Linked DNA regions of Homo sapiens: region 1 is linked to region 2. Evidence: fine-mapped expression QTL. A gene starts in region 2. The other region holds a variant in brackets. All regions are shown on one strand. Distances are between the middles of the regions. Region 1 overlaps KIAA1549L (KIAA1549 like). Region 2 holds the start of KIAA1549L (KIAA1549 like).

Evidence for each region. PIP is the estimated chance that this variant, and not a neighbour inherited with it, causes the effect.
Region 1: its variant is the best candidate, but not a certain one, in a credible set for the expression of KIAA1549L in sun-exposed skin (GTEx, PIP 0.70).

Annotation. Positions count from the first base shown.
Region 1 is chr11:33,515,552-33,520,926 of GRCh38, reverse strand. The region is part of intron 1 of KIAA1549L (KIAA1549 like); the gene reads right to left. Among named protein-coding and RNA genes, the nearest start is that of KIAA1549L, 140 kb to the right of the region's middle. The variant A/G (reference allele first, on the strand shown) is at 3,154.
Region 2 is chr11:33,373,843-33,379,217 of GRCh38, reverse strand. KIAA1549L (KIAA1549 like) reads right to left here and starts at 3,110. Exons shown (of 21, transcript NM_012194.3): 1 at 2,329-3,110. The coding sequence starts at 2,566. RefSeq lists silencers at 2,245-2,524, 2,655-2,754, 2,895-3,134, 3,165-3,224.

The sequences.
Region 1 (5,375 bases), 140 kb before region 2:
CCTCCCAAAATGCTGAGATTACAGACATGAGCCACTGCACCAGGCTGAGATGTTACTTTTTAAAAACAAAACACTCAATGCAAGGTTTCTGAATGCCAGTTCAAACTTCAATCCTTGATGCAAAGTTTTCACCCAACCAAGACAAAACAAGAAAAAACAATTACGAGAGAGGGGGAGAGAGAGGGAGTGTGTGTGTGTGTGTGTGTGTGTGTGTGTGTGTGTGTGTGTGTGTGTGTGTGTGTTGGGGGTGGGGGGTGTATGTCCACCAATTGCCTTTCTGGGTCTAATGGATAATCCTCCATTTTAGTGTCAATATTTCCTTTGTTTTCTAAACAATAATGACAGCATGTGTAGCTATTGTTTTGTTAATGCCCTTACTTGACCAAATGAGAAGTTAGTAAATCTAAACTGAGCTTCTGAAATTTTTCATTTCACTGGTCCATGAGCTCATAGAGCTCCAAGTCTGAAAATCAATGAACTACCTTTTTTTTTTTGAAGAAGGCATTATGTTAAGTGAAATAAGCCAGACACAGAAAGACAAATATTGCACAAGCTCACTTATATGTGCAATCTAACATAGCCAAACTCACAGAAACAGAGAGTAGAATAGTGGTTACTAGGGGCTGTTGAGGGAGAGAAATGGGGAAGTGTTGGTCAAAGGGTATACAATATTTCAGTTATACAAAATAAATAAGATCTGGAGATCTACTGTATAGCATAGGGCCCATGATTCACAACACTGTATTGTATGCTTAAAAATTCGCTAGATCTTTATGTTATGTGCTCTTACCACAAAAGGAAAAAAAAGGAAGGGAGAAGAAACTTTGGGAGATAGTGGATAAGTTCAGGGCATGGATAGTGATGATGGTTTGATGGTTTCATGGTATACCTATTTCCAAACACATCAAGTTATACACATTCAATATCTGCAACTTTTTGTATGTCAGTCATTCCTTAGTAAAGTTGTTAAAAAAAAAAAAAAAAGATGGCGACCCGATATTTCCTTTGATAGGTAAGTATCATAGAGAAGGATATTTCGTACCTCTTACTGCTGGGGTCGGGGAGGCAAAGAGGAAATGTGAGGAGGGCACCAGAGTGGCAGCCTCCACAGAACATTCTGGCATTAAAGGTTGTGAGGGGCTTGTCTGAATGGCCAAGGACAAACTGCCTAAATGAAGACTTTTTAAATGATGGAAAATGCTCTCCTTCTCTGATGTACCCCCCTCTAAAGAAAGAACAGTTGTTCTGAGGTCAGAATTTTATATAGCTTGTGATTTTACACCCTTCTTGTTCAGTATCATTATATATGCACAGCTTCTTGAAGTTAAAAACATAAACTACTACCTACCCTCAAGATGAATAACAAACAATTCTATCTCCTACCCTGAAGTAATTGTTAACACTATTATTTTCACAGTAAATAATTGTTACAGCCATTTGCTGGTGAAATAGTGACATGTTTTGTTGACTTCTTACAAATACCAAGAGAAATCAAATGCTTCTTGTAGCACATTGGTTAAGTTGCTAATTACTTGTATTTGAGCTTGAAATCCTGGCTCTTCTCAAAAATAAAAATAAGTTATGACAAATATATATCACTGGAGCATATAGAAATCAACATTTCTATTATAGAGTCTTCCTTAAAATCTACTCTCTCAAAAAAAATGGATTGAAATATTGAATAATTTAACACTAAATTAATTTCAGTAGGGTAAATCTGTTGGCTAGATCACTTGCAGGGTAGTGATACACATCTTTATTCAGAATTCTGAGTATTTAACTGGTTATTTTTCATGCTAACCTACATTAGACAGTTCTCATGTTCAAAACATCCAGTCTATTTAAGATTGGATTCCCCAAGAAAATGTGCTACACATGTGAAAATGAGTACAGGTTGAGCATCCCAAATCCAAAAATCCAAAAATACAAAATCTGAAATGCTCCAAAATCCAAAAGTCTTTGAGTGTCAATGTGATACTCATAGGATATGCTCAATGGAGCATTTTGGATTTCAGATTTCCAGATTTGGGATACTCGATAAGTGTAATGTAAATATTCCCAAATCAAAACATATCTGAAACCTGAAACACTTCTATTCCCAAGCATTTCAGATAAGGAATACTCAACCTGTAATTTAAATCAATGCCAGAAGAACTATTAGGGGAAAATAAAATTTAATAACCAAAGTTAGATTTTACAGCTTTAATGGCAACTTTAGAACATTTTAATAGCACAAAAGAATAAAACAGACTTTATAATATCATAGCAAGTAGAAAGCAAAATAGTAACTTTATTCTATGAATTAAAAAGTCACAGTATGACATAGTTCTTAGGTTTACAGCCACTATACAAGGGACAAAGCCAGAGCCAACTTTCCTTGAAAAGCAATTAAAAGAACAGATGAACACAAAGTAGTCTCCAATATGTAGTTGACTCTGCTGTGATTTTATCTATTTCAATGAACTCAAAGAGAAAGTTAATGTATAGTACAGGATCATACTCAAGGGAAAGAGGGAAAACATCACACAATGGGCCAGGGGATCTGGATTCTGCTTGCAATTCCCCGACATGCTCCCATTTACATGTAAAGCAAATCACTTTATCTAAGCCTCAGTTTCCCAATTGTAGCATGAGAAGCTGAAATCCAATCAAGAACTTGCTAATTTAGCATGTTTTAAAACAAGAAATTTTTTCAGTAGTTTTACCACTGTAGACATAGATTAATCTTGCCCAAGAAAAAAATTTTCCCTTTGCTATGTCTTTTTTTTTTTTTTTTTTTTTTTTTTTTGAGACAGAGTCTTGCTCTGTTGCTCAGGCTGGAGTGCAATGGTGTAATCTCAGCTCACTGCAACCTCTGCCTCCTGGGTTCAAGCAATTATCTGCCTCAGCCTCCCTAGTAGCTGGGGTTACAGGTGCCCACCACCACACCTGGCTAATTTTTGTATTTTGAGTAGAGATGGGGTTTCACCATCTTGGCCAGGCTGGTCTTGAACTCCTGGCCTCATGATCCACCGACTTCAGCCTCCCAAAGTGCTAGGATTACAGGTGTGAGCCACCGCGCCTGCCTGCAATGTCTTTTAAGTTTCTTAATCTCTAAGTTCTCCCCTTCCACTCCTTTTGCTCCTGAAGAAGAGCCTGAGCCCTTTTACCTGC[A/G]GAGTTTCCCACAGTCTGGACTGTGGTGATACACATTCATGACTCATTTCAACATGTTCCTCTGTCCTCTGTATTTCCTAAAAATGGGTGGTTGATTCCAGAAATAGAAGCATTTATGTCCTCGCTTTTATTAACTTATAACATTTTGAAATTGGAATTAAACATTAATAATAATGACATAAAGGAGTTTAATTCAGTCTATATGAACCCAACTCTTCCTCATTTGCTTAGGGCACTACCCCTTTCCAAGGGGGAATAAGGCATAATGGCCACATTCTCTATCAACACCAAGGATTCTTTTTACTAGAAAGCCAACTCTAGGCTCATATGCACTCAGGATATGGATATTACCCTAGGTATGATCTTGGCAAGTTTCCCTTCATCTTTATGTTTGCATTAGTCTCCTTTCTTCCCAGACCTACAGCTCCCCCAGCTACAGAGGCGTTACATAAGGTAGACCTGCCACAGGGTGGCTGCCATTGTTAACTACTCCAGGAGGCAGCCCTTCAGCAGAAATAATAGAAATATGCTGCCTTAGAAGTGTGAACCCATCTATCTTGGGGAAATGAACTCCAGAAGGTGAATTTAAAAACAGCATCTTAGCAGGAAAGGCGGAAAGGGAGAGACATACCCTAGCATCGTCATCGAGGAAACAATTCTGCCACCAGCCATTACAGCTGCATCATCTGCAAAAATGAGTGTTCTATAGGCAGAGCAGATGTTCCAAAGCTGTGTCATTTGTAAAAATAAATGAGAAACGTGAATTGAAGATGCGACCTCACTCAATATCATCTTTGAGAGTAATAGCAATTAGGCACATTGAATATAATTAGAGCTGAGAATGCAAGGATCTTTCTTCAGTCTAAATATAACTACAGAAAACATATTTTCAAAAAGTAAAATAACTCTCACTGTTGCCTGCCACCACACAGTTGCAAAGTGAGCCAGTCTAATTCTGGGGAGCTTAGACAAATGTGGCTGATTCCATACCTTTGCTAAAAAAAAAGTTGCCAATTCTTCAGCCATAGGAGAAATTAAAGGTTGGATTGGTCAGAAAGAAAACAGGTGTTTTTTGTTTGTTTGTTTGTTTTAAGACTGAATAATTAGGAAGAAAAAGGCAGAGGAGGGAATTTATTTTTTCCCTCATAACTTCAGAGAATTAGGAATAATGGCTTCACATATCCATCCCTGTAAGGAAGATAGGAGTAAGAAAAGTTGGTAGACTTCTGGGCCTCAACTTCTTGCTCAGATATAGCTGTGGTAATTTGGTTGCTCAGATTTCTCGCTCAGATATAGCTGATCACATCTCAAGAATCACCTCCAGGCCGGGCGCGGTGGCTCACGCCTGTAATCCCAGCACTTTGGGAGGCCGAGGCGGGCGGATCACGAGGTCAGGAGATCGAGACCATCCTGGCTAACACGGTGAAACCCCGTCTCTACTAAAAATACAAAAAATTAGCCGGGCGTAGTGGCGGGCGCCTGTAGTCCCAGCTACTCGGGAGGCTGAGGCAGGAGAATGGCGTGAACCCGAGAGGCGGAGCTTGCAGTGAGCCGAGATTGCGCCACTGCACTCCAGCCTGGGCGACAGAGCGAGACTCCGTCTCAAAAAAAAAAAAAAAAAAAAAAAAAAAAAAGAATCACCTCCAGCTGATTGGTAGTGGCTGCCTAGACTGTTATGAAGAATTCTAAGCACAGTCCTGGATTGGCAGGGAAGGGTTCTGGGATCAATTAGCAATGTCTGCCTTGGGTGCTGTAGTACAGAATGGCAGCATGAATTTGGACAGATGTTTAGCATCTCTGGGGAAGGTGATCTCTGAGGTTTCTTCTAGCATCTGGTCCAACTGCATTCAATTTCAGATGAAGCTAGGACCAATAATGCTTGAGTGACTTGCCAAAGGTCTAGCACCAGAACTAGAGGATTCCCTCTAATAGTGTTCTTGCTACCAACAGATGCATCACGTTACTTTTCTGGAGCACTGACTCAGAGATAGAGGAGGTAAAATGAAGCAAGGAGAAGCAAAGGGAGGAGGTTAAAGACTGATTGAGAAACCAAATGAAAAAGAGGAAAAGATCAGCAGGATTGACAGAGATGGGCCAGAAAACAGACTTGTATCCCACGCTGCAGTTGCTATGCAAAGTAACCATTTCCACACCTGATGAATCAAAGATACTCATGATTCCCTTGCTGACGATTTCCTGCTCACCACCCACGTGGGGAAACC
Region 2 (5,375 bases):
TTTTCCAGAAACAAATCTATGTTTGCCCATTTTTCAACCAAGACAAATGTCTGGCTTAGCCTTCCTTAAACAACAAGGGAGAGCAGCCATGTAAATGATGGGACTGTAGCAAGCCAGCACTTTGAGTAAGATCTCAGACATCTCAGGGTCGGACGCATTCTACAATGAGTGGCAACACCAAACCGCAGCGACTCCTCAGAAAAAGTTCCAAACTAGGTTGTTTGCAGAAAGTCAAAGGCCCCAGAAATTGTCATTCATTCTCCTGCCTCCCTCTTGACACCACTTCTTCCCACAAACCCCTTAGGATGCCCTGCATTAGGCCCAGGACTCACCTACCCTGGGGTGAAACTGCCTCCAGTGGAAATCAGAGAACAAATGAGAGCAGATAGGAGGTAAGAGTTACACACAGGGAACCCAGTGTTTAACCCTTCCACTGAGTCATGGAATTGAATCAGTGGCAAACCCACAGAAAACCATGGAGCTCAGAGGTGGACTGTGAATCCGCAGGTGGGCTGGACCACGGGAAGCTGGTCATAAAGGGGGACAGCAGAAAGTGCATCCAAAAAGCATAGAGGAAGCAACGAGTCGCTCGGATGAGATGGAGAAAGACGGAGAGGACTCTGGGGAGGAACATCAACTTTTAATTATTTTTACCATCATTGTAATCAAAGCATCTTTCCCAGCCCCGTATCCCCATGACCACCACACTGAAAGGAAAAAGAAAGAGGACACCAGGGCTAAACCCAAACAATGTGGATGAGAAGTCCTCTAAATCAGGCTCTGGCGGTCTGAAAGAGGAGCCAAGGAAAGTCAGGGAGGTTCAGAAGGCTCAAGGTACAAAGGTCAGAAGGGAAATCAGAAATTCAAAACTGATCCGAGGAAATCACCCAACATCAGGCTGAACAAGAACAACACATGAAAGCCAGTTTCACATATTACAGATGGCTGAACAAATGAACATCATCCCAAAGCAAACATCTCATAAGCAGTTCACAAAAACGACCAAGGACTTGATATCCTTTAATCAAAAACAGGATGTATGTTTCTGAGCCAATGAATACCAAGGTATTTACGTGGGTCTTTCTCAGGCCTTATCTTTTAACAATTATGCCAAATACACATCACTAAAAACTGCTACAGGCATAAAAATCGGGGGCTAAAATTCGTCAGAGGTTTTTCTCAAGTCTGAGGCACACATCCAAAGATTCCTGAACTTTGTAACCACTATAATCGCAATAGAACATTATCTGACAGTAACTCGCAAGCACAAGCACCACCTGTCAGTGACTCTTTAAGTGAATCGAAGGAAAATGGGCTCTGAATTAAGCTGCTGAAGACGAGAAATATTTTTAACCTAAAACTCTCTTATCTAAAACAATGTCAGCCCCTTTACAATTAGGAATTTTAATCTAATTTGGGGGAGGGGGTACTCTGAGAAAGAAGAAGTCATTAGTCCTTGCTAAAAAATGCAAAACTACAGGAACACATTATCTGAAGTGAGAAATATATTCCTTGATAAGGCAGTGTATCAAGAGCTCAGAATTTCGTCAGAAACACAAAAGCCTGCCCTTTCCAAGTGCAGGCAGTAATCATTATTATTTCCAGGACAACTGCTTACTGCACAGCTTAAGTTTTGAAGCACACTTAGCAGAAAAATCCACCCCCACCTAGAATACTTACAACAGATTTCTCAAAATTGTCCAAGGAATTACAGAAATCTATTTCCTGGGGATTGCTGGAAGTCTACAAGCCAAGCATGACTATTTTTAACTAACCTGCAAACAGTGGATTATATACTTAATGAGCGCCTGCATCCCTTTGCAAGGTGCAAGCAATTATTGGAGAGACCTCCTTCCCAAAAGAAAAGGGTTCCGCTATCAACACAGGAGAAACTGTGTTGATATTTGGGAAGCCGACACGCGGATTGCCTAAAACTCTCTAGCCATTTCATGCAGTTAAGACAAAGTGGACACTCAACAGAGAGCCCAAAATACCAGGGACTTTGCCACCCTGAAACGTGTTCTAATGATACATTTCCCGTTTAAGGTGTCCTAAACACACATCTTTCTCTAAATAAAGCGTGCCTGCGGGACCACTAGGAAGGTTCTACAACTTGTCCAAAAAGAAGAGGCGATTGCTCCTTTTTTTTTCTTCCCCGCCCAAAGTGCCTTCCCGAAAGACAGATTTCTGACAGTTCGCCTACTGTTGCAGCAGTAAAGGGCCGGTGTTGCCAATACCTCTCCACCGCCACCTGGGCAGGTGTGGGTCCCGTCCCGCCGCCCCGCTCCTCCAGAAACCTCCGCGGACGCCCCGCCGCCGAGCGCTTACCCGGGTCGGCCTGGCCGTGCTCCAGGAGGGCCGCCAGCAGCAGAAGTCCCAGCAGCAGCGTCGGTGGCCGCGGGGGCGCATCGTGGGACGCGCCGGCCCCGGGGCCCCTCACACCCGTGCAGCGCGCGGCTCCCCAGGCAGCCCGACCAAGCCCACGCGCCACGGGCCGGCCCCCGCGCCCCCGCGTCGCGGGCCCAGCTTCCCTTGAGCCCTGAGGCTTGGCCTCCTGCGGAGCCATGGGGACGCTTCACACATCCAGGCCGCTGCCTCGCTCTGCACCGCGCCGGGGAGCCCAGCCCTCGGCGCCCCGGTCCTCACCGGGCATCGCCGGCCACGGCCCGGGCGCCGGAGGGAGGGGGCGCCGAGCGGCGCGACTGGCTCGCTCGTCCTGCCGCGCCCGGGGCGGGCTCCAGGGAGCCGCGGCTTCACCCGCGCAGGGGCCGGGCCCGCATGGAGCCGCGGCGGGTGCGGGCCGGGGTTCCCACGGTGCCTGTCGCCGCGCGCCGGCGCGATTGGGGCGGCGAGGGTGGGACGGGCGCCGCCCGGGGCCCCCTCCCCCGGGCCGGCTCCTGCAGAACTAGGGGGCGAGGCTGCCGGGAACGGGGGTGGCGGCCGCGGGGCGCGCTCGGGTCCCTCCCTCCCGCCGCCGCTGCAGCCTCGGCGCCCCGCTGTCCTGGCTCCTCGCTCCTCGCTCCTCGCTGGGCTTCGGGTTCCAGCCCCGGCTCCGGCTCGGGTTCCCGGGCCGCGAGTGCTACCGCAGCTCAGAGCGGCGCCTCATTGACAAAGAAAGCACGTAGCCTCCGGAACGGGCGAGGAGGCGAGGAGGCGAGGCCGGCGCGCGCGCGCAGCCCCGCGCGGAGCCACCGCGCGCTCCCCGCTCCCGCGCGCCCGGCCGGGCTCGAGACCCAGGAGGGGGACCCCTCCCGGCGGCTCCCGCGCAGCGGAGGTCCTTAAGGGGAGGGCTTCCCTCCCCTCCTGTCCCCCATCTAGAGAAGGGAAGGTTGGCGGGAGAGAGGTCGTCTGGCCGGGGAGGGGGGTCATGGTCAACGTGCCCAAGCGGCAGGAAAGCTCTTCCGCCTGGATTTTGGAAAAGCTCTTTGTAGAAGGGCGGGCGCGCTTTGTGCTGTTTGTTCACTACTTCTCCGAGGGTTCAACGGACAGCTGCATGCCAGTTTACCCCTGAGGAGCTCAAGCGGCTGTGGGCTAGTTGCAATAACACGCTGGATTAAAACACATTATAAATATTTGTTGCAGCCACACTACGTGCAAAGCATTACACTGCGCACTGGGAAGACTGGGGGAAGTTTTTCCAAAAAAGTCTACACCCCCAAACAGGAGAGTCAGGCAGCTCCTGCTCAGAGGGACAAAAGGCCCAGGCGTCACCTGAGTTGGTCCCCTGCTCTTCGCCCTTGCTAGCCTTGATGGCCTTAGCAAGTGACCTGGCTCATAGGCGCCTCATCCATCCCCAGTCACTGAGTATCTATTACGGGCCCGCTGTTTGCCAGCATCTGTGTTAGGCACTGAGGATACAAGCAGCGGGGAAACACACACATCCTTGACCCGGTAAAGCTCAGACGCTATTCACTCAACAATCCTTACTGACTGCCTGCGATGTGCCAATGACAACAGCCATAAACAAAATCCCTGCCCTCCTGGAGCTGACATTCTAGTGGGGGTTCACCCGCAATAAACAAATAAGTAATAGAATATTAGACTGGTAAATGCCGTAAAGAAAAATCAGTGTAAAAGAATGAAACGTGGGGAGGGGGTGTTGCAAATGTTAAACATTGTGAAGAAAGGCCTCGCTGAGAAGGTGACGTTTGAGCCAAGATCTGAAGGAGGTGAGAACAAGCCATGCGCGAAGAGCATTCCAGATACAGGGAACCAAAAAGGCTAACATCCCGGGGCAGAGCGTGCCTGGTGTGTTAGGGCACAGCAACTTAACCAGGGGATCTGGAAAAGTGTTAGGTTCTAGTTATTGAGCATCTGCAGGATAGAAATAACACCACATTTCATCTAAGACACATACTTTTCACATGTTAACTTTTCAGAAGTCAGATGTGTTCTTATAATATGTCTAAGATTTGTTGAAATATAGTAATGCCTTGTTGGGGGTTATGATTTAATTTTGTTCTTTAATTAAACTAGTTGGGCTGTTTTGGGTTGTGTTAAGAAACTTGCAGTCTGGCCTGGCGCAGTGGCTCACGCCTGTAATACCAGCACTTTAGGAGGCCAAGGCAGGCGAATCACCTGAGGTCAGGAGTTTGAGACCAGCCTGGCCAACATGGTGAAACCCTGTCTCTACTAAAAATACAAAAATTTGCCAGGTGTGGTGGTGCATGCCTGTAATCCCAGCTACTTGGGAGGCTGAGGCAGGAGAATTGCTTCAACCTGGAAGGCAGAGGTTGCAGTGAGCCAAGATTGCACCACTGCACTCCAGCCTGGGCAACAGAGGGAGACTCCTTCAAAAGAAAGAGAGAGAGGGAGAGAGAGAGGGAGGGAGGGAGGAAGGGAAAGATGCAGTCTAGTTGAAGAGATAAAGCAATTCACTAAATTAGTTGGAGACACTGTGAGAAAGCCAGCCCATGGTCATGGTTCAGGCAGCATCACAAGATGAACGGCCCTGCAGCCGGTGGTGATCCCACGGACAAGGCGATGGGGAATGAGGATGTCAGGCAAAGAAGAACTGAAACAAGGGCAGGGTATAGACTCGCTTAGGTGTTGCAGAAAAGGGAGCCCCTGGAGAGAGAAGTGGGCGGAGCAGAGGCAGGGAAGGAGGCAGGAAGATTGGTCTTGGAGCAGTGGGCCTGCCTGTTTGAGACCCAGAACTCTTATGCTGAGGCCAAGTTGTGAAAGGCCTTGGACACATCTGAAGGAGAGGGAGAGGGGAAGATAAGTCACTCTCAGGAGCACCAATCCTGTATCAGGCTCTGAGTTAAGAGCTCCGGAGAACACACAGGTGGATGTGATGGGGGAAAACACGAACCCTTTAGTAGCCACAGCTTCCCCCACCCACCCCTTTTCTGCACCTGGACAATTGTGGTGTT